Linked DNA regions of Homo sapiens: region 1 is linked to region 2. The links come from fine-mapping of genetic effects on gene expression. A gene starts in region 2. The other region holds a variant in brackets. All regions are shown on one strand. Distances are between the middles of the regions. Region 1 has its middle 27 kb from the start of ATOH8. Region 2 holds the start of ATOH8 (atonal bHLH transcription factor 8).

The links. PIP is the estimated chance that this variant, and not a neighbour inherited with it, causes the effect.
Region 1: its variant is fine-mapped to the expression of ATOH8 in whole blood (TOPMed, PIP above 0.99). The same link has a PIP of 0.9 or more in monocytes.

The regions. Positions count from the first base shown.
Region 1 is chr2:85,721,708-85,733,167 of GRCh38, reverse strand. It overlaps the pseudogene RNU1-38P. Among named protein-coding and RNA genes, the nearest start is that of ATOH8, 27 kb to the left of the region's middle. The variant A/C (reference allele first, on the strand shown) is at 5,264.
Region 2 is chr2:85,747,519-85,758,978 of GRCh38, reverse strand. ATOH8 (atonal bHLH transcription factor 8) reads right to left here and starts at 4,988. Exons shown (of 3, transcript NM_032827.7): 1 at 4,022-4,988. The coding sequence starts at 4,789. RefSeq lists a silencer at 8,099-8,319.

The sequences.
Region 1 (11,460 bases), 26 kb after region 2:
TTTTTTCAAAGGACAAACTGAAAGCCAGTAGAGGCTGAGGGAACAGAGAAGCACTTGTGGGGTGGAAGGGCAGAAACTCTGAGCCCAGAGGGAGCAGGGAGAGGCCTGCCAAGCCCAGGGCTAGGCCAGGAGTGCTGGGGAAGGGTGTTGAGGGGGAAGCCAGAGACCATGGAGAGAGAGATGAATGCAGATAGGAGTCTCTCTCTCTCTCTCTCTCTCTCTCTCTCTCATGCACACACGCACACATGTGGACTTTCATAACCCATCCCATCCTCTATGTTCTTTGAGTTTTGCTCTGCCAGGAACACCCTCTGTCTACGTGGAGAATTCCTTTCACTCTTCAGAGGACCACTAAAATGTCACCTCCTCTGTGAAATGTCCTCTCCAGGGGCCCCACCCTCTCCCCAAACAGATTCATCAGTGCCATCCTTGGGTTCCAGCAGCCCTGCCACCCCACTGAGCTAACACCACTGTGCTAGCAGATGGCCTCACAGCCCACACATCCAGCTCCCTGACCAGGAGGACCTCAGGGCAGGCCAAGGAGGCATGGCAGAGCTCAGGCTGAGCAGGCCTGACTGGGTCCTCTGTAGACACATAGTCACTTCTTTGCCCAGTGCTGAGCACACAGCTGGGGCTCAAACAAATATTAGTTATAACTATTTGGCCAGGGCCAAATAATAACAGATTGTTATTGGTTGAATATACTTACATAGGCCTTTATCATAGGCCCACATGCAACCCCAAGCCACAGAGGTCTCTTTCCCGCTCTCTCTTCTGTGTCTTGGAGTTATATGGGGGTTGGTCTTCAGTGTGGGGGAAAAGTTGCAAAAAAAAAAAAGCAATCGAGGCCGGGCGCAGTGGCTCAAGCCTGTAATCCCAGCACTTTGGGAGGCCGAGGCAGGCGGATCACGAGGTCAGGAGATGAGACCATCCTGGCTAACACGGTGAAACCCCGTCTCTACTAAAAATACAAAAAAATTAGCTGGGCGTGGTGGTGGGCGCCTGTAGTCCCAGCTACTCGGGAGGCTGAGGCAGGAGAATGGCGTGAACCCAGGAGGCGGAGCTTGCAGTGAGCCGAGATCGCGCCACTGCACTCCAGCCTGGGTGACAGAGCGAGACTCTGTCTCAAAAAAAAAAAAAAAGCAATTGAGTTTTCTTAGAACAAACCAATGAAACCAAAGCTGCCCAGATGTTTCCCCCACCCAAGAAGCCTAATGAGGAAGAGGGAGGCCTGGGAGCCTGGAGGAAATTCCCTTCTGCACCCACCCAGACACATGGTGCCAGGCAAGGTGCAAGCTGCTTCACCCGTCAGAGCCTGGTAATAATATTCACAGCATTGTTGTAAGAAACAAATGAGATGACAGGTGACAAAGTGCTTGGCAAAAAAGTACAGCACGCCCACAGAATCGTCTCATGCAGCCCCATCTCTCCTTTCTCTCATTTCCAGTTCTAGAAAACTGGTGTCAGTTACAAAGGCCTTGAGGAACTCCATGAAATTGTCAACTGCTTGAATGAGGATCCCTGAATGTTCTGGAGACAACAACATAAAAGCAGAGAAACAGGTCCATATTCGGTACTCACTGAATGCTTGTTGATGAGATTACATTCTTAAGAAAGATTTCTAACTCCAAATGCTGAAAATTCAAATCTGTCAAGAGCGGCTGTTGACCCAGAATGGTTCAATTAACTGGAACTCCAGCCCTTGAACATTCTGGGTAGCCAGAAAGAATTCTCTCTGGGAAAATACAGGGCCAGCTCACAACAAGCGTGACTTCACCCTGTGCCCCCCAACACTGCAGGATAAGGACATGAAGCCAAGTACAAATGTCACACATCTTCAGGGAGAACCAATTTTATTCTGAAGTTTTTTGGGAGGATGAAAATTACCAACAAGAATTTCCCTCGTTCTAAGATCTGCATTTTCCCCATATTTTAACATTTAATATCTAATTTTAACATTTTAACATCTAATGAGATCATGTTTTTTGCTTCTCAAAAAAAGAAAAAAGGATACGTAAGGATTTATATATCCTTAAATCCATGGTGCCTGTTGCAGTGACATCACCTTAAGACTAAGCAAATAAACCAGTCACACAAATCGCTTTAAATGGAAATGCAAGTCATTAAAAAAGATTGTTTTTAATGATAAAACTTGCCAGGAGGCACTAAAAAGAAGGTGAAAGGCATGTGAACTTTTAAGAAAATGAATGAGAGGTCAAAAAAAAATGTTTTTCCTACGTTGGGCCACTGTATGTCATGCCCTGGCCTGCGTCCCTTCCCTCTCCCTTGCCCTTGGCCATGCTGCGGGGAAGAAGTCCGAGGATGGCTGCCGGACACTGCCACCTGGGACTCACCTGCCCAGAGGGAGACTGCCTGGGAAAAAAATTAATGGCCGGGTGCAGTGGCTCACTCCTGTAATCCCAGCACTTTGGGAGGCCGAGGCAGATGGATCACCTGAGGTCAGGAGTTCGAGACCAGCCTGGCCAACATGGTGAAACCCGTCTCTACTAAAAATACAAAAATTAGCCAGGCGTGGTGGTGGGCACCTGTAATCCCGCTACTCAGGAGGCTGAGACAGGAGAATCACTTGAACCTGGGAGGCGGAGGTTGCAGTGCCGAGATTACGCCACTGCACTCCAGCCTGGGCGACAAGAGCAAAATTCCTTCTCGGAAAAATAATAATAATAATAAATTAAAGATTGGCAAGGCAGGGGTGTCCCACGTGACACAGGAGCCTCATGGCCCTTTGGTGACACACCTGTGTCCACAATGCCTGTGGGGTGAGCACAAGTGAAGACCGCCAGGCTGCTGGGGGCAAATGGAGTGCCGCAGCCATGCCTGGCCTTCCCCTTCCACCTCCACTCCCCTCTGGGCCAATCTTGGGTGAGGACAGAGCTTCAGGGACCACACAGGTCATCAGCCAAAAATGAGTCCAGTTTGTCAAGGAGTTACCTCACCCAGCCAGACCCGCTTCAAACTTTTGCGGGAAGGACATGGCTAGGAGGAGAGCTGGAATCCCACTGGAATAATCCTGGCTGGTATAAGCCTGAGACCCTCCGTCCATGTCTTTGGAGAAGGAAGCATCTGGGCTGGTGCAAGCTCTCCTGTCACCCTTGGGGACAAAGGGTCGTGGCAGCTGTGGGCCCAGCCCGGAGTGGGTAGGCAAGGCTGGCTCTCATGCCCTCTGGCTTTGCCAGGTCCTGAAGCCCACTGACCCTGACCCTGGACCTCCTAATGACCTCCTAACCCCACCCCTAAAATTTCTACAATAAACCTGTTTATTTTTACAATCTCTCACCATCTTCCTGAGCCTAGGTTCGGCCTGCCTCAGCTATCCCAGCCCACATCCTGCCTGGGACTCAGAGGCAAACCTCACAATTTCGAGACCATCTGACATTCCTTCAGCATCTAATATTTTTCAACCTGGGACCATTTACCCAACATCCCTCTAGACCGGACTTCTCAGCCTCTTCCTGTGCCTCAGCTCACATGAAGGATGGCATTTGCAGGCAGCTGCACACCTCGGGCCACCTTTAAGCCAAATCCCTGGCTTCTAATTCCGCCCCTCTTTCTCCCACTTCGTGCTGCCTCCGAATCGCAGATGTCCGTCTATTATTGCACTTTGCATCGTGTACCTCGGTTACTTATTTAGGTGCCAGTCTCCCTTGGGGGCAAGTCCTGGGTTTTATAGAGGATTTTTTTTTTTAATCTCCGTGGCCCCAGTGACCAGCCCAGCATCTAACACACTGCTCACAGGAATCCTGTGTCCCTGAACCCTTCTCCCGGGCCAAGATCAGACCTGTTTGAGGAAGATGGAAAAAGTGCTCTGTGAGCAGGATTATGAAATGACAGGGATGACGTGAGGGGCTTTCGAAACCCTGGGAAGGAAGATGCCCACGTGAATGACAGCCCCTTGCTATTCTCGGCCACCCGAGGTTCAGGTTTTAACTCAGGACAGCTGCCCGGAGCCTGCAGTCAGCCGGGGACAGAGCCTCCCGCCAGCGCAGCAGACCTCTGCTGCCCCCTCGTGGTCCCGGGACCTCAGCCGAGTGGGGTCTCCAAAGGCTCCAGCTTCTCGTCTCTGGGAAACTTCTCAGCCGCAAGCCTGAAGACAGAGATTTCCACCTCACAGCTGCCTGGGGAATGCCTCTTTGCAACAGGGAACCAAGAGGAGCTAAGAGCAGGGCCTTAGGGGGTTTTCCATTCACAGCTTTGCAGTTTAACTCACAGTGTGACTTTCAGTGACCTCCTTCACCATTCCAAGCCTCAGTTTTCTCATCTGTAAAACAGAGATTTTAATATGAATCCTCCCTCATGGGTTTTGTACAGATCAAGGGAGATAATAAATGAAAATTGCTTAACACATAGTAAAGACCTGGCACATACAAGGACCCAGAGGGGTAGCTATTGCTATTATTATAATGAGGAGAATCTGGGTGACCCTCTCGTCCACCCTTCTATTCCCAGGACCTGGGGACTGCTCCTAAGTATCTGCTGAATGAGTGAATGTATTACAGGTGCTTTTGACTTTCTTCTTTCTACTTTCCATTCACGTGGGCATCTTCCTTCCCAGGGTTTCGAAAGCCCCTCACGTCCTCCCTGTCATTTCATAATCCTGCTCACAGAGCACTTTTTCCATCTTCCTCAAACAGTCCAATCTTGGCCCGGGAGAAGGGTTCAGGGACACAGGCTTCCTGTGGGCAGAAATTTTATTCTAAAATTTCTACAATAAACATGTTTATTTTTACAATCACAATAAATTTTAAAACTTTAAACAAGGAAATGTGTAAAGAAAAGGGAAAATGGGAGGGGTACACAAAGTTTATGCTCATGCTTACCTGACAGGGGAGATACCATGATCACAAAGGTGGTTTTCCCAGTGCGAGGCTCACCATTGCACCCCGGAGGTGCAGACCCCTGTGTTTTCCCCAAATGAGAAAAATAAGAAAAGAAAGAAAGAAAGTTTCGTCTTCCATTGGATCGACTCCATTCTCCTCCTCCAGGTGGTGATGGCAACGAGCAACAGGAACACACTCCTTCCCCAAACACCTCACCCTCCACCTTCTCAAATTGGCCCAAGTTTGGGCGGAAATGTTAGGCCACCCCAGGCGCAAAGCCCTGGCACTGGGCCGGTTTCCTGGAGTAGGTGGATCTGGGTTGGTGGGGGCTGTGGCAGTTCCATTCTGCTTCCCTGGGCCAGGCTTGGAGCATTGCGCTTGTCACAGGCTTTGGTCTTGCGGGTATTGAGGCCACCATGGGCCTC[A/C]TAATTATTTCCTTTGAGTGCAGATTATTTGCCAGCGCAGAGAGGTGGTGGCAGACCTAGCGTGGGGTGGGGGAGATGGACTGATGCAGACAGGGTCTCGTGGAGAACGCCGGCTCCTGTCACTCACAGGGGAGTGGAGTCAATTCAGAGGAGGATACATTTTTTGCACCCTCCCACTTTCCCATATTTTCCCTTTTATTTACCCATTTCCTCATTTAAAGTTTTAAAATGTATTATGATTATAAAAACAAACATGTTTATGGTAGAAATTTTGGAATATACAGGAAAGTAAAAAGAAGAAAGTCAAAAGCATCTGTAATACATGCACTCATTCAAGAGATACTTAAAGCAGCAGGGAATAGAATGGCGAACGAGAGACCCCATCTCAACCCTCCCAGAAATCATGCTTAGGTAGGGGATCCCATTACCCTGAGACAACCACTTACAATAGTTTCATATGCTTCCTTTAAGTTTTTTTCCATAAATATATCTAACCTATATTTAGTTATTTCAAAGCACACTGAGCTCATACCTATCTGCACCGATATATGCTATTTATCAAAAATATTCTATCACATGTATTGTTGTAATGGCTGAGTGTTCCAACACAGAAATGTAAAATAATCCATTTAACACATCTCGGGCTTTCAGTTATTAGCTTGCTTGCTTGTTTCCCATCCTTTTGTGATTCTAAATTACAATGTAATTAAAACATTTTAGGTAATGTATCTGATCTGCTATGACTATTTTCTCTGGAAAACAAATTATTAGATCAAATGGAATAAATATGAGAAGCAACACAAAAAAAACCACTGAATACTAATTATAAAGTAATACAAGCATTTTGAAAAATATTTAACAAAATACAGAAAAGTACAAAGAACAAAATAATGCTCACCTATAAGTCCACTACCTCCAGGTAACTACTATTAATATTCTTGATACATCGTTTTCCAGATTTTTATCTGCATATAAGGGTACTAAAATACAGTCTGGGCCCGGCGCGATGGCTTACGCCTATAATGCCATCACTTTGGGAGGCCGAGGCAGGTGGATCACCTCAGGTCAGGATACCAGCCTGGCCAACATGGTGAAACCCTGTCTCTACTGAAAATACAAAAAAAAATTAGCTGTAATCCCAGCTACTAGGAAAGCTGAGGCAGGAGAATCGTTTGAACCTGGGAGGTGGAGGTTGCAGTGAGCCGAGATCGCGCCATTGCACTCCAGCCTGGGCGACAAGAGCAAGACTCCATCTCAAAAAATAAAATAAAATAAAATAAAATCCAGTCTGACAGTCTTTGTATTTTAATTGGAGTTGTACACTTTTCTGTGCATATTTTTTCCAAAATGAGATTTTACTGTAAATATTTTGATTCTGTACTCTAATTTTTGGTGATATACTGTGAGTAATTTTCCATTATTATTGTTATTATTTTGAGACAGAGTCTCACTCTGTCACCCAGGCTGGAGTGCAGTGGTGCAATCATGCCTCACTGCAGCCTCAATCTCCCAGGCTCAAGTGATTCTCCAGCCTCAGCTTCCCAAGTAGCTAGAACTACAGGTGTATGCCACCATGACCAATTAATTTTTTTTTTTCAGTAGAGACAAGGTCTCACTATGTTGCCAAAGCTGGTCTCAAACTCCTGGGCTCAAGCAATCCTCCTACCTCAGCCTCCCAAAGTGCTGAAACTATAGACGTGAGCCACCACACCTGGCCCCATTTGTATAAATTCATTTCTATCACATCTTTTTTTTAAGCAATAGGGTCTGGCTCTGTTGCCCAGGCTGGTCTCAAACTCCTGGGCTCAAGCAATCCTCCCACCTCAGCCTCCAGAGTAGCTGGCACTATAGTCCAGCTATGGGCACACACCACCACACCAGCATCTACCACCTCGCTTTGAATGGCTGCACGGTATTCCACTATAATTATATACTATAACTTATTAAAATGTTCCTTTATTCTTAGACATTTAAGTTGTATACATCTTCTACTATTAGAAACCATGTTGTGATAAACATTCTTTTATGTGCATCTTTATGTGTCTTTGCTTTTTTAAAAGATTACTTGTCCCTCGAGTTCTCTGGTTATCCATTTCCAAACTAAAACCGTATATACTGACCATCCCATAAATAAGTTGTTGCTACCATACATTTTTGAAGTGTTCCTCTAGTTCCCTTCCTTGTTTTCCTTTCCCTGGAGCTTGTTCTGCTTTTGTTTGGCTTGGCTTTTTCTCTTGATATTCACATACAGGCTTTCCTCAATCATTCACTGACCTTTGGCTGTTATCTTCTATTTAAGGGGATGATACTAAAAAGCTGATTGGGAGTTTCCAGGTCAAGATGTCAGGTTGAGCCCACACATTCAACTTTTCTCCCTCCTGAAACCCCACCAGCATTATAGTAAAGAGATTGAGAAAATGCATATATAAACCAAAAGGATGGGGAAAACATAAGAGAGGGCATTGCAACCAAACTTTGGAAGCTGAAAGCAGATGAATGCATGGGGACTAGTTTAACAGAACCCAGGAAGAGCTGATGCTGAGGTGGGGAAAGCTGAGAAGAATACAGATCTGCACTGCAGAATCCTCAGGGGCTCAGGAACTGGCAGCCCCTGGAACTTCTAAGGTCAAGGCAAAGGGGGCCTGAATGGAGGAGGGTGAGGGGAAAGCTGTGTGGGAGGCCACCAGCACCCCAGATGCTCTCCCTTCCTCTGCAACACCAGGGAGCTGTCCTCCCCACCCAGCTGAGACCCAACCTGTCTTCTCTGGAAAGGGGGAAATTGAGGGTCTCCGCGGCTGGAGGTCAGCTGGCACAGGCGAGGGTGTGAGCTGCAGAAGAGAAACAAGGAGTTTTGCTGCCTGCTGCATGCTGAGCCACCCAGGGCAACAGCAGCTGGGTCCTTGCCTCCAGGCAGGAGATGAGGAAGCTCTGGGGAAGCCCAGCATACTGGAAAGTGTGCTTGGACAAACCTAAGTGTAGCTTAACCCAAAGCATCCGGCTTATACCCCTGAGAAGCCCAAGAGGAAAGCTCTAAAGCCCTTGACATCTGGCTTTCCTGCAGTAAGTGGCCCAGTGGCCCAGCATTGCCCTGCCTTGGACTTGAAGCTAACAAGCCCCCTCCTCAGGCTCAGAGGCTGATCTTCACTCTAATTGCAAGCAGATGGCCGAGAGCTACCTAGCACCAGTGGAATACCTCTCTCATCAGGGCCAGAGACACCAACCAACAGAATGAGAAACACCCAGGAACAGACAATGTGTACGAGAGAGACGAGAGGACAGTTACTAATGTTGATAATATTTATTTACTATCTTCAGAGACAGGAGAAAAGCTACTGTCTCCACCAAATAGGAGCAAGATACTGTTTTTAAAGGCTCACTGAGAGAATGTCTTAAAGCTTTTAACAGTGGGGGAAAAAAATGACAGCAGCAATGAAAAACTCGACAGGAAGTGTGGAAGATAAAATTGAGGAAATTTCCCTGAAAGTGTATAACAAAAAGAAAAAATGATGGAAAATCAGAGAAACCAAAATAGGAAGTCCAACATCCAAATTGCTCTTTCTGAAGAGTGATTTCAAAGAGATCAGAAAAAGAAAAAGGAAGGAACTAATAAAAAAAAATCTAAGAAAATTACTCAGAACTGAAAGATGTACATTTCCAGATTGAAAGAGCCTGCATGTGCCCAGAAAAATGGATGGAATCCCTACAGCAAGACACATCATTGTGAAATGTCATTGAGAGCACTGAGCAGCAAGGGGATGGGCCTGTATGGGTCAAGGTTCATGGCTGAAGACAACAGAATCCAAAAGAGAAAGGGATATAGTTAAAATTATTAGAAAGGTCAGGAAACCAGGAGGCTGAGGCAAGAAGATCACTTGAGGCCAAGAGTTGGAGACCAGCCTGGGCAACATAGTGAGACCCCCATCTCCACTTTAAAGTAGCCAGGTGTGGTTGTGCACACCTGTAGTCTCAGTTACTCAGGAGGGAGGTGGGAGGATTGCTTGAGCCCAGGAGTTTGAGGCTGCAGTGAACTATGATCACACCACTGCACTCCAGCCTGGGCAACAGAGCGAGACCCTGTCTCGTAAAAGCAAAGAAAGAAAGCTCAAAAATCATTAGACAGCTGGAGAAATAGGCTTTAGGTGGGCTTCCAGGAGCCTCCTATGACCCCACTGAATTGGCCTGATATGGAGCTGGTCTTGCTGGCACCCCAAAATCTCAGTTACGCTGGCTTCCCCATGTTAGCAAAATCACCACCCCAAGCCCCATCTCTGCTTCATACCCACTCTTGAGTCAAAATCTCAAGCATGAATGAACATAAACCTAAATGCTGTGAGTAGCCAGAGAAACTGGGAAACGTAGATTTCTAGATTCTACACAAAGAAGGCAATAGTCACAATGTGGGAAATTACATGGGGTGTTCAACAGGTTTGGCTGGCCACAGATGAAAATGTCTTCCCAAAGCGATGCACATACTCTATGGCTCTGTCTCCTCTGAGATCTGACACAGTCAGTGGCAATCAGATTCTCCCTCCAAGAATGTGGAATATTGACCTGAGAGCAAAGACTTGGAAGTGAGCTTGCTTTTAGCAATGCTCTAGGGTGAACAGTGCTGCCCCAAGTGTCATCTCAGGCTAGGGAAGATGCTGAAGTGTTTGTCATCAGTCTTCAACCAGGTAAGCACAGAAATTGAGTAAGCTTTTAGAAACTCTTATAGCAATTTGACAAAGTAACTTTATGTCTGTTAGACCCAATAATTTAAAATGGGGTTTGTTTTGTGCATGTTTTTTAATTTCATTTTTCCAGTCATTGAATTTTATGGCATCTCCAAAAGCACTGGAATATAACATTTGAAGTTTTTAAAGAGTTGGTCCTCCAACCACAGAATTTGAGCAGCCCAGCTCTACAGGGGAAGTCCTTGAATCTGCTGCTGACCGCCTGGATCTGGCCTTTCGGGCCCTGCTGAAGTTAGGTGGCCCTGCCCTGCCTCAGAAGCCATGAGGCACCCCCAGGCCCTTCTAATAAAGGCCCAGTAAGCTAGCCAGTGGTCGTTCTGGTAATTGCCACTGAAAGGATTTTAATTAATACAATCATTAATCCCACTCTGCAGCTATGAAAAACAAGGCTCACAGAGGTTACGTAAGTTGCCCACTAGAAGGCCCAAAACTAGAAACAAGCAGAAGCCAGGATTGCAGCCAAAGTCAGCCTGCTTCCGAGTCTCTGCGCTTCCACTGTGCTGAACTTTAGAGCAACAGCCACAAGGATTCAGAAATATTTTTCTTTTTTCTTTTTTTTTTTTTTTTGAGACAGAGTCTTGCTCTGCCACCAAGGCTGGGGTGCAGCAGCATGATCTCGGCTCACTGCAACCTCCACCTTCCGGGTTCAAGTGATTCTCCTGCCTCAGCCTCCCAAGAAGCTGGGATTACAGGTGTGCGCCACCATGCCACATTAATTCTTGTATTTTTAGTAGAGGAGGGGTTTCGCCATGTTGGCCAGGCTGGTCTCAAATGCCTGGCCTCATGTGATCCACTTGCCTCGGCCTCCCACAGTGCTGAGATTATAGGCATGAGCCACGCCCAGCCGGAAAGATTTTTCAGTATTAGTGAAGGATGGGAAAAGAGGACTCTTAAATATTGTTGGTGGAAATGCAAACTGGTATTAAAAAAAAAAAAGTTTTGGGAGGAAATAGTGTATTATTAGTCAGGGTTCTCCAGAGAAACAGAATCAACAGGACACACACATATATTACATATATGTAAGGAAATTTATTATAGGAAGAGGCTCATGTGATTATGGAGGCCAAAGAGTCCCACCATCTGCTGTCCATAAGCTGGAGAACCAGAAAAGTCAGTGGTGTAATTCAGTCCGAGTTCAAAGGATGGACAACCAGGGAAGCCAGTGGTGTAAGTTTCAGTCTGAATTCTAAGGCCCAAGAGCCATCCATTCCTGAAGCACTCATCACTATCTATATTTGATGACACCCAAATTTGTACCTCCAGCCCGAACCCCCTTTCCCAAACTCCAGATTTACATAATCCAGTTTCCACACTGGCGCATGTCCAGCTCCATGCCTTTCGTTCCAGCCCCTGCTCTAGCAAATGGGACCACCAAGCACCAGGCCCTGAGGAACCTGGGAATCATCAGACTCTCCTATCTCCTCCCCCTGCTCTACATACAACTCATCAGGAAGGCCTGTCACT
Region 2 (11,460 bases):
AGAGAGGAAATCCACACGCACACCACATGCCCCAAGGGTGGGCACAGCTTGTGAGACAGAAGGTCCTGCCACTCTGGCCCCTTCCCTCACCACCCCTCAAGGCCAGCCTTTCCCTTTGACCCCTCCCACCTGGCAGGGAGCAGCCCCACTCCCGGGGCCAGGCCAGCTGTGCACACATGGCCTTCACATGAGGCGGCAGGGAGGGCTCTGGTGCAGCTGCGCTGGTGGCATGTGCTGGGGCCTGACCATCTGCCCTGCACCACCCAGCCCAGACCAGACCAGACCAGAGGGCCTCTCTCCCACCTGCACCTCCCCACCTGCGGCCCTGCAGCCACCCTCCCTGCTCCCTTCCTGGTTGAGAGGACAGTGGATTATGACACAATGGGAGCCTGTCTGGCTTCCTCATGCTGAGGGTAGATGGCTCCAGGACATTAGACAGGCTGAGGAGCAGAGCTGTTAGGAGTCTGGGCCCTGGGAGCCCAACCCAAGCTCCGCAGCAACAGCGGCACACAGCTACGCAGGCTGCCACTGTACATGACCACGAGGCACCGCCACCCTGGAGGCTGGCAAACTGCGTGCCAAGGTAGCATGTAGCACAAAACCCACAAGGCCACGTGCAGTGGCAAAAGACCGGGACAACTTACATAAGCTCTCTGAAACTCAGTGTCACCATCTGTGAAACAGGGCAGGGGGTGCAATAATATCTATTTCATTAAATGAACTAATACACATAACAAGCTTAGCACCATGCCTGGCACAAAGTAAGCATGTGATGAATGCTAATTTCTGTGACAGTTATTAAAACAATTAAAGAATTCTTATTGCTTCATCTGTCGAGAGCCTTGCCCAGCCCTGAGGACCTTGGAGATGCTTAAGAAATGTTCAGTGCTCTGGCTGTGCACAGTGGCTCATGCCCGTAATCCTAGCACTTTGGGAGACAGAGGTGGGTGGATCACCTCAGCCCAGGAGTTCGAGGCCAGCCTGGGCAACATGGTGAAACCCCCATCCCTACTAAAATACAAAAAATTACCCAGGTGTGGTGGTGCGCACCTGTAATCCCAGCTACTCGGGAGGCTGAGGCAGAAGAATCACTTGAACCTGGGAGGTGGAGTTTGCAGTGAGCTGAGATCACACCACTGTACTCCAGCCTGGTCAACAGAAAGAGACTCTGTCTCAAAAAAAAAAAAAAAAATGAAATGAAAGAAATGTTCACTGCTCTTATAGGCCTCCTACCTTTCCTCACTTTCTCTTCTCAACACTGGATGAGGTCAGCAATATTACCATTTTACAACTTCAGCAACTGAGGCCCAGAAAGGGTCAGTGACTTGTCCACAGCCACACAGAAGGCATGCAGGGGAGGAACAACTCAATGCCTGGCCTCCAGTTTCCCAGATCAGTGCTTCTTTCATGGTACCAGGAAGCTGCTCAGGAGAATGAAGCCCCAGGCCAGAGCCACAATCCCAGAACCCATCTCAGTGCCACACTGGCCAAGGCCCCATTTCAGGCGGAGCTGATCTGCCTTTTGTCCATTTCCAAGGACCCATTTCAGTCAGGCCCGAGCCTAGCTCCAGAGCTGCAGCTCGTCTGGATTCGGGGAGGGGGTGCGGAGTACATTTTACAGAGAAGACTGAGGCCCAGAGGAGGAAGGGGCTCCTCCAGAACACAGGACTTCCTCTATCGAATGGGTGCCATGGTGGTGAGGAGGACATGGTGGGTGTGGCCTTGGCCCCTGGTTCTATGACCAGAAACGTCCTGGCTGTATTTCTTTCCTTCCCAGCTAACAGGCAGGTGCCCACTATGGCCTGGCAGCCTTTCTGGGGAAGGGGCAGAATGGCTAGGGCAAGGAGGAAACAAACAGGAACAGGTGCTTCTGTGACCATGCATTTGTGTGTGCTCTTGAGCACGTGTAAGGAGCATGTGTGTGTGTACCTGCCTGTGTGTTTGCATTGCATACACACGCTCTCCCTGAGAGGGCATGGGTGTGCCTTCTACTTAGATACACTGAACTTGCCCTTTTTATAGAGAACTTCCCACGGTAAGGGGGGAAGTAAAAGGAGACCAGGATGAACAATCTCATCTCAAAGGGTCTGCCAAGTGTGCACCCTGCCTTGATTGTTAACAAACATCACAGGCTGGGGGCTGGGGGGGTGGCACATGACGCTGATACAGATGGCACTGTGGGAAGCATTTGGCCAGGAGGGCATTCCAGAAACTGCTGTTATCTTCCCTAACCCACTAGGTGACCTTGGACAAGTCTCCTTCCATCTCTGGGCCTCAGTGTTCCATACTATAAAATGAGTTAATCCAATTTCGACAGGGATTATGTTTAGATCAAATGAGATGGAATTGATTGTTGAATGAAGTAAAAGTCAGTGGGCACATGAGATGTAACAAAGCACTCAGATGAGTATTCTCTCAGCATACAGAGGCAATAGAGGAGCACAAGGGCCCAGAACCTGCAGTCAAAGCCCCTAGGTGCCAGCCCTGACCTGCTACTCAACAGCTATGAGGCTCTGGGCACGTGCCTCCCCAGTCTAGGAGGGGCTTCCCTAGTGGCAAGGTGGGCAGGTGGACAGGCATCTCTCTGCCCTTCTGTTATCCTTCTGTCCTGGGGAGTGGGTTGCAGGATCCCCCACGCACCGCCACCTCTACCCAGCGATGCAGACACAGAGCTGCTGGCTCAGGGTGGGACTGACTGCTCCACTGGACCCACCGCCCAGGGTTCCAGCTGGTGTGGATGAGGGCAGAGGCCCAGCCTGGTCTGTGACAGCCACCCGTCCCCCACCCCCACCCCCACCCCACCTCACTGACCACTTTCCCCAAGCCCAAGCAAGACACTTTGGCTCAAAAGTCATAGGGCCTCTTTCCTCCAAGGATTCAATTTCCTTTCCATGGATGGACACAGGCACTACTGCCCCACCCCACCCCAACCCCCAGCAGGAAGAGGAGAGTGATCCAAAAAGAAGATCATGGTTTCTGAAATGTTTTGTTGCTGGATAAAGCCCAGAGAAGTTGAGCAACATTCCTGGAGTCACACAGCAAGTCAGCTGCAGAGTATGCAAATAAAAAGAAAAAAAAAACACCCTTCAAACCAGCCACATCTACCCTAACCCTTCCCCACGCCCTGTGTGGGGGTGGGAGAGAACTCACCACCTCCTTCCTAGAGCTCCTTCTCGCTAAGAAAATAAGAAGCCTAGAAGCCCAAGCGATTGTCCCGCCCCACCACGGGTAATTCTTGGGTTAAGTATTCTTCCGCTACCTGCGCAGGGGCACTGTCTGGTGAGGGCAGCCCGCACCAGCCCCAAACTAAAAAGTCCCGGACCCACCCCAGAACTAGGCTCTGAAGATGCTCCAGAGGGAATCCCCAACCTAGGCAGTCCCCTCGGCAGAGCTGCCTGCTTCACCACGGGTGAAAGGAAGGGATCTGCTAGAAAGACTCCCACCAGCCGATTCCTGAGCCCACCCCTGGGGAGAGGGCACAGGCTTGTAGCGCGGGTTCTTGAGGATGCCAGGGCAAGGAGTGCATAGCCCGGAAGCAACCTGAGTGTTCGGGGCATCACCGCTGGGGCCTGAAGAGGGGCTGACAACTCCCCCGGACTGTCCCACCGCAGCGTTCCGGACCTTGCCACCACCAACTGGAGAAGGCTCCCCCCTTCCTCCGCTGACAGATTCCCACATTTCCCCTCTCCACTCCGCACCGCGCCCAGGGGACTCCGGCAGGCAAATACTCGCTGCCATAAAAGTGAACTATGGAGGCTGAAGTCAGAAGCGCAGACAGCGTTACCCCCGAGGCGGGGGTTGAGGGCGGGGGGTGCTCGGGCCAGAGATAACCAACTCTTATAGCCACTTTGAAAACTATGATCCATACCCTAGGACTGCCCACACCTGTCTGGGCACCAGGGTCGGACCGGGCGGGGCAGCTTGCCCCTTAAACACACCTCTATCCCGCCCCGGCCACTCGCCCACCCATTCCCGCAGTCGTCCCCCGGCGCAGTGAGGGCGTGCGGCGGCGAGCGGGTACCTGCTTCCTGAGCGCCTCGAAGGCTGCGCTGATGGTGTGCACCCGCGTCCGCTCCCTGGCGTTCGCCAGGAGCCTCCGGGTCTGCTGCAGGGCTTTGATCTCGGAGGAGGCGGCAGTCGCTTCGCCCGGTCGTTTCCTAGGCGACGCGGAGGAATCCTGGTGGTTATTGTAAATTACGTGTGAAATTGACGAGTAGGAACTTTCCCCGGGGCGCGTCGGGGGCGCAGGGCGCACAGTGGACTCCGGGGGCGCTGGCGGTGCTGGGGGTGCTGACGGCGCGGGGCGCGCGGGCGGTGCGCACAGCAAGATGCGAGGACGCAGACCCGGCTCCCGGAAAGGCTGTGCCTCTGGGCCCCCAGGTGCCTGGCTCTGGGGCGCAGGAGGCGGCGGCGGCGGCGGCGTGGGGAGTCCTGGCCCCACTGCGCCTAGGGCGAAGCAGCGTTTCCGCGCGTCGGAGACCTCGGGCGCCCGAGAGCCCCCGCGCTCCCCGGCTGTGTCCGTGCCCCCTCTTGGGGGAACGGCCGGCGCCACTGGGACTGGCACCGGCACCGGTACCGGGACCGGCTGCAGCCGATGGGTCCTGTCCCGCAGCCCGTTGGTGGCTACGGCGCGGGGCTCGGGCGCTTCCAAGTCCAGTCGGAAAGTTTTATAGCCGTTCGCGCGCCGCGCCGGCTCCTTGCCTTTCCGCTTGAGCTTCTTAAGGCCGTTCAGCTCCTTCACGCACACGGTCTTCCACGGCCCGTCCTCGAGGACCGGGATGTGCTTCATGGCGCGGGCGGCGCGCGAGGCAGGGGCGTGGGGCTGCCCGGGCCGCCGCCGCGCTCAGCGCCGAGGAGTCTCTGGCTCTCCCGCTTCGCCCGCCCTCCCCCTCCCTCTCTCCCTTTCTCCCCCTCGCCCCGGGCAGCTGCGCCGCCGGCTTCGGGAAGCCGCCGGGCTGTCCGTTCCCGGAGCGCTCAGAGTGTCATCTGAAGTCGCTGCCTCCTTGCCAGCATTTCTGGAGAACGCCCGCTGCGCTCCATCTGTGTTTGTTTAGCCTCAGTTTACACAGAAGCCCAGTTCGCGAGATCAGTCAGCGCCGCCGCCCGGAGAGGAGGCAGCTCCCGCCGCCACCGCCTCCCCAGCCCGGGCCGCCCGAGCCGCGAGCGCCTTTAAAGAAACAGGAAGCATTTTTCAAAACAGCTGGGCCGCCGGCCGCCTCCTTTGTCCGCGGGCTCCCTACCTCCCCCCCACCCCCATCCCCTTGGCCCAGAACCTGCCTCCTCCGGCGCTCCCTCCCCGCCCCTACTCTAGTCGGGGGCGCTTCTATGTTCCCAGAGGACAGTCCGCTCCTGCACAACCGCCCCGAGCACGTGACTTATGGGCCCCCGGCCCTTCCCCAAATCACAGCGGGGCCTTTTCTCCCTGGCCTTGCCGGCCTCTCGGTGACGCAGCTCCGACCTTGCCCACCCGGCACCTTCCCGCCGCTCCCTCCGCCCCAACTCGCCACGAGACAGAAAACGCCGGGAGCTGGGACTTCTGCTGGGGGCCGATGGGGAAGGGGAGACTCCGGAGTTGCCCGGCGACCCACACCCGCCCGGCACGGCAACCCAGTCCACTCTCACTTGCTGGAGCGGGAAAGCAAGAGGAGCAGAGGGCTTAAGACAGGGAAACTGAGTTTCCGAAAGCTCCAAAGTCACGCAGCAAGTCACAGAGGCAGAGGAGGGTGGAAGCTTCGGATTTAGGCAGACCTAACGTCTGCGAGCCTCCGCAGTCACCTCACTCCAGGCGCCCTGCTAAACCGGGATTTACTCATCTGTGAAATGAGAAATTCGGAGAACAACGCCTAAGTCACAGCATTGCTCTGAGGAATTAAAGCACTAGGCACATAGGAACGGGTCGTCAAATGGTAGCTGTGGTTGTTGTTAGTATTATTTATTGAGGCAAAACAGCTACTTGAGGCAGATTTCCTGGGCTCAAACCCCAGCTCTGCCACTCACTGAATGACCTTGGGAAAGTCACTTAACCTCTCTGTGCCTCCCTTTCCTCACCTGTAAAACGAGGGTCATAATCGTACCTTCCTCCCCAGGCGGTGTGAAAAGCGTGTATGCGCAAGGCACTCAGAGCAGTGCCTGGCACCAGGTGAGAGCTTTGCAGGTGCCCACGGTTATTGGCAAGGGGCAGAGGTAGACCCCCCAGACCCTCAGTCATCAGTGCCATTCCACTGGAGATTCTGGAAAGAAGGGGTCAAACTAGTAGGCCCTCAGATGTCCTTGCCAGAGGACTGCTTCCCAGCCGCTCCCTTCCGAGGCTCAGAACAGGGCTTCACTCCTTGCTGGTCCCTTCTCTGTGACTGTTACTCCTTAAGGAAGGTGGACACTAAAAGCCAGCAAGGTGGTTTGGGAGAAGATGGACCCTTGACCCTGGCCTTGAACTCTGATGAAAACACAAGGGCTCACACAGAGTGGAGTGCTTCTCTCCTCCATGGGAGAATGCCTAGGGGTGGAGGAGGCAGATGGCACGCAGGGTGCTGGGAGGTGGGATGGGGATCTGGGCATAGCTTTGGGGGCAGGAGCATGGAGCTCCAGCCAGCAGCCCCGGTTGAGCCTTGGTTTGTCAACGACGGAACCCCATGACCACGAGCAAGACGTTTCCTCCCACCGTCACTCTTTTCTGTCTTTGAGGATATTTCCAGCCAACCTTCTCAGGGTAGCTGGGAAAGGACAAAGAGATGGATGTCAAAGGACTTTGACATAAGACTTCAAACATAGACACACACACACACACACACTGAGGCATGCAGTTTTCTGAATATAGTAAATGCAAAATCTCATTTTGCCACCAAGGTGGGTGCCAGCATCATAAAGCATGTGCTCCCGGAGACATCGTCTTCCCTGGACACCTGCATATTCCTGCACCTTATCTCTGTCCTGGAGACCAGGTGTGTGCTGCCAAAGAGGAGCCCTCATTCTCCTGTCGTTTCCCTGCTCAGCCTCGAACCCTAAAGTTCTGGCCTTTGCTCCCAGGTCTCCCACGGCTCCCCTTTGCAACGCACACTCTTCCTCACCCTTCGATGAACAGCTCCGGTCCCCCTCCTCCCGCGAACCTTCCCTGCTCACCATAGCCTCCAATTGCTCTTGCTGGCCTGTGTGCATGCTTGCTCAAAAGTCCTGCTGCAACTTAGCCTCCACTGCAGCCCTGTTGGAACTCCTGGGCTTGTGCGTTCCTCAAAGGCGCACTCTTGCCTTCCTCCCTGTCTCTAAAGGCTGGTGCTCAGGAAACCTCTGATAAGGACAAGCAACCCTCGTGCCCTTTACACTCCTGTCTGGAGACCCAGTCCTCCTGTGCATCCAGCCAGTCAGTGGCAGAGATGGAGGAAAAGTGACACTCCTTCTCCAGGGCTGCTCAGGTACTCTCTGAGCTTCAGTAGCTTCCTCTGTAAAACGGGAGTAATGATACCGTGCCTCACACGGCTGCAAGGACTCAAAGACGCAGCATGTGCAGCATGTGGCATGATGCCTAGAGTCTAGGGAATGGTGACCTTGGGCATCCTGGGTCAGCCAGCTGCTAAGGCCCCCTTGCATCCCAGACTTGGGTGTAGCTGAAGACTGGGGTGCCCGTGGCTGGTGAGGTTGTGTGAGAAGTCTCTAGCAGGACTGAATTTTGTCCTTAAAGAGGCCAAGCTGTGTCTGGGAAAATCACATCTTGGCTGAATACCAAAGGATCCACTCATACTGATCCTAAGCCCCGTGCCAACTTCCCCCCAAATAGAGGAGAAGGTCACCGAGATCCCATGGGGCAGGAGGAGGCGAAGGGATTGGATAGGAATGATCAGCCATGCAGGGTGGAGGTAGAGCAGGGCTCCAAGCCGGGCTACAGGCTTCCAGACAGGCTCTTTCTCCTCAACATGCTGCCTCTCCCGCTGGCCAAATGCCAGGGCCCCAGAGTTGGCAACAGGCAAGCCCAGAGGGATCTTCACCTTGTCACGTACCAGGTGTGTGACCTTGAGCAGCTCCCTGACTTCTCTGAGCCTCTGTTCACTATCTGGGCATCATCTCTTGAGTCTTGAGATGGAATGGTGTGTGTGGGAACAGGCGACAAATTGTAAAGAGGCCGATTGATGTGGAGTCCCTGCTATTGCCATTGTCAGCCTGCCAGGTTGCAGACCTTCCAGGTCCAGGCTGGCTGCCCACGCCCCACCAGCCTAGGGGTCAAACCTGTCTTCCAAGGGCTCTCACTTCTGCCTTCCTCAGCCTTGCTGAGAATTGGGGCAGAGACCAGCTGGGCAGCACCCCCTGGTGGTATCACACTATTGGGACTGCACACAACACTGCGGTCTCCCCATGAGGAACTTTTGCCCATTGTGGTGGCCCTGTAATGACAGTAATGTGGATTTCATGAATTCATAGACTTTCCAGGATAAAAAGTCTCCCAAGGCTCCATTTGGCCCTACTCACACCTTTGGATGGTACAATGCAGACGACACCCTATGCCCTTCATTAAAAACATCGCCCACTGAATTAACCATTTGAGGTGACCCTGGGATCGAGGGATGTTGTCACTGGAAGATTCCATACCCCTTTGGATGGCTGGTCTAGGGAAAAGGAATAAAGATAAAAAGGGAAGGCAAAGCAAGAGCTTAGGGGTCAGGCCACTGGGAACAGATATTAGAAAGTCAGGCAATCGTTAATTCTTTAATACTGCCATGCAAGGAGTGCATACAAACTCTATCTCACTAATCCTTATCATCACCCAGGGAAGTAAACCCACTCTACAGATAAGAAGACTAAGGCTCTTAGTGGGGAAAAAAATAATCTTGCCAACAGAAAGAACAGTCACTGGGTGCGGTGGCTCACGCCTGTAATCCCAACACTTTGGGAGGCCGAGGCTGGTGGTTCACAAGGTCAGGAGATCGAGACCATCCTGGCTAACACAATGAAACCCCGTCTCTGCTAAAAATACAAAAAAATTAGCCGGGCATGGTGGCGGGCGCCTGTAGTCCCAGCTACTCGGGAGGCTGAGGCAGGAGAATGGCGTGAACCCAGGAGGCGGAGCTTGCAGTGAGCCGAGATCACGCCACTGCACCCCAGCTTGGGCAACAGAGCGAGACTCCGTCTCAAAAAAAAAAAAAAAAAAAGAACAGTCATGGGATTTGAACCCAGGCCAACTGACCCCAAAACCCAAGCTCTGAACCACTGTGTCCGCTGCCTCCTGAGAGCTCAGTGACTAGCATCTGGGAGGTGATAACTGGGCCACCTATAGGGCTGGCCTGTGTAAGCCAGCTCTTCCTGCTGTGCTGCCAGCCTGGTGGGCTTCTTGCTGTCAACCTCTCAGCTGGAGCCACTGGCCTCCCTTGGTCCAGCACAGTGCACTTCTAGCTCCTTCTAGTCAGGGTCAGATGGCAAGGGCATATAGAGCCCAGATCTTGGTATCCAGGCACTGGAGCCCTCCCTCCTTGCAAGTGGAATCTGCCCAGCAGTTCCTTGGTGCACACACCACCCGAGTGCAGACAGGACAGCCCTGCAGGCCAGTGATTAGCTGCTTCTTGGCCGGATAGGATGGAACCTTGGATGCTTGCTACATGAAGCTCTGCATTCCTGAATCTGGAGTCCCTATTTATGGCTGTTCAGATTGTTCCAAAGTAGGTGTGGCACCCGTTAGAGAAAGGGAGGAAGAGTGGAAACTAGACTGCCATGAGGAAACTCTCCTAGTGGAAACAGACACAGCATGAATGGTGCCCCCCTGGGGTGGTACTCACAGCAGCTCCAGAAAGGGCCAACCAGGGGAATAAGAAGAATCCAGAGTTCCTCCCCGCCTCCCATTCACAGTGCTAGCACTGCCACCATTAACCAGCAGGACATTGGATCCAGAGGACAGTGATGAGGCATCCAGGCAGGAAGCTCTTTCAGACTCTCCTGCAATCTTCCTTCTACCTTCCTCTATTCAAGTGGCCATCCCAATTATGGAAAACCGAGTCTTTGGGGCTGGGCAGATGCCAGATAAGGGCACTCTCTCCCTGAGACCCGCTGTGTGCACCATCTCAGCACATGCTCTGTGTACCTTCTTAACACATGTGCAGAGGGCAGTGCCCAGGGGGTAGGGTTTAGTCCTGACTCTTGGTCAGAGTGGAAAGGGAGAGTGGGGAGGGAAAAAGGTCACGAGGGTTGTCAACAAAAAACAGGAGGAGGCTGGCATGACATATCTCCACACCATTGGCCAGGTGTCCTGTTAAAGCAGGACATATGTCATTTCTCTGCTTAAAACCTCCGCTTGAATTCTTTTGCTCGGATGTTCGTGGCTGCTATGAATTCCTTCCCTCCCTGCATGCATGGAGAGGTGGAGTCTGTCCCTCCATTGCTGGGAACCTGGGCTGGCCTGTGACTGCTCTGGCTAATGGAGCCCTGCAGAAGTGCTGCTGTGCTTTATGGAGACTGGCTGTTTAGGCTTCCGGCCAGTTGGAAGCCTTTAGTTGCTAAGTGAGAAACCCCGGTGGGTTCTGCTGAAGAGAGAGGCCACATAGAAAGCAACACAGTGCCAGACATATGAGTGAAGAAGGCTCTCAGCAGAACCTTATGGGTGCCTCCAGCCCCAGCCTCTAGCTGGCTGCAGCCCCATGGGGGAACCCACTAAAGAACCACCCGGCTGAACCCAGTCAACTAACAGAAACATGAGAAAGAATATTAAATGGTTGTGTTAAGCCACTACATTTTGGGGTGGTTTCTTATACAGAAATAGAGAACTGAAACATTCGAGTAGGAGCAAAAGTTGACATCTGGTCCCCCATTTCCTCTCTAACCTCATCCCCCGCCCTAGCCCATATACTCTGCTCTCACCACACAGGGCTCCCTGCCATTCCTTGAACCTACCCAGCAGGCTCCCACCTCAGGGCCTTTGCATTGGCTGTTTACTGTGCCTGAAATGCCCTTAGCTCGGGTAGCCTCAGGGTTCACTTCCTCACCCCTTTCTGGTGTTTCTATGTCCCCTTCTCAGTGAGGCTGTCCCTAATCACACTCTATGAAGTTTGTACCCTTCCCCTTCAGTATTATCTACCTCTTCCTTGCTTTATTTTCAATGGCATTTACCATCATCTGCCATACTATAGATATCACTGGTTGCTTGGTTTCTGTCTCCCATACACTAGAAGGTCAGTTCCATGAGGTCAGGGATTTTTGCCTGCCTTGTTTACTGCTATATCCCAGCCGCTAGAACAATCCCTAGTACACAGTAGACACTCAATAAGTACTTACTGAGTGAATGAAGGTCCACTCCTCTGTTTGGACCAAGACCTGCTCAGCTATTTAGTCAGCTGCTTTGACCAGAAAAAAACAGTGGATCCAGAGACAGAGTTGGTCATGTCAAAGGCACAGCTGCCCTGACTGCCAAGAACTTGTGGTTGTCTTGAATCCACAATCTTTTCTCTGGCATTGGGTTCCCCAACCTGATCAATTGAGTTGGGAGCAATG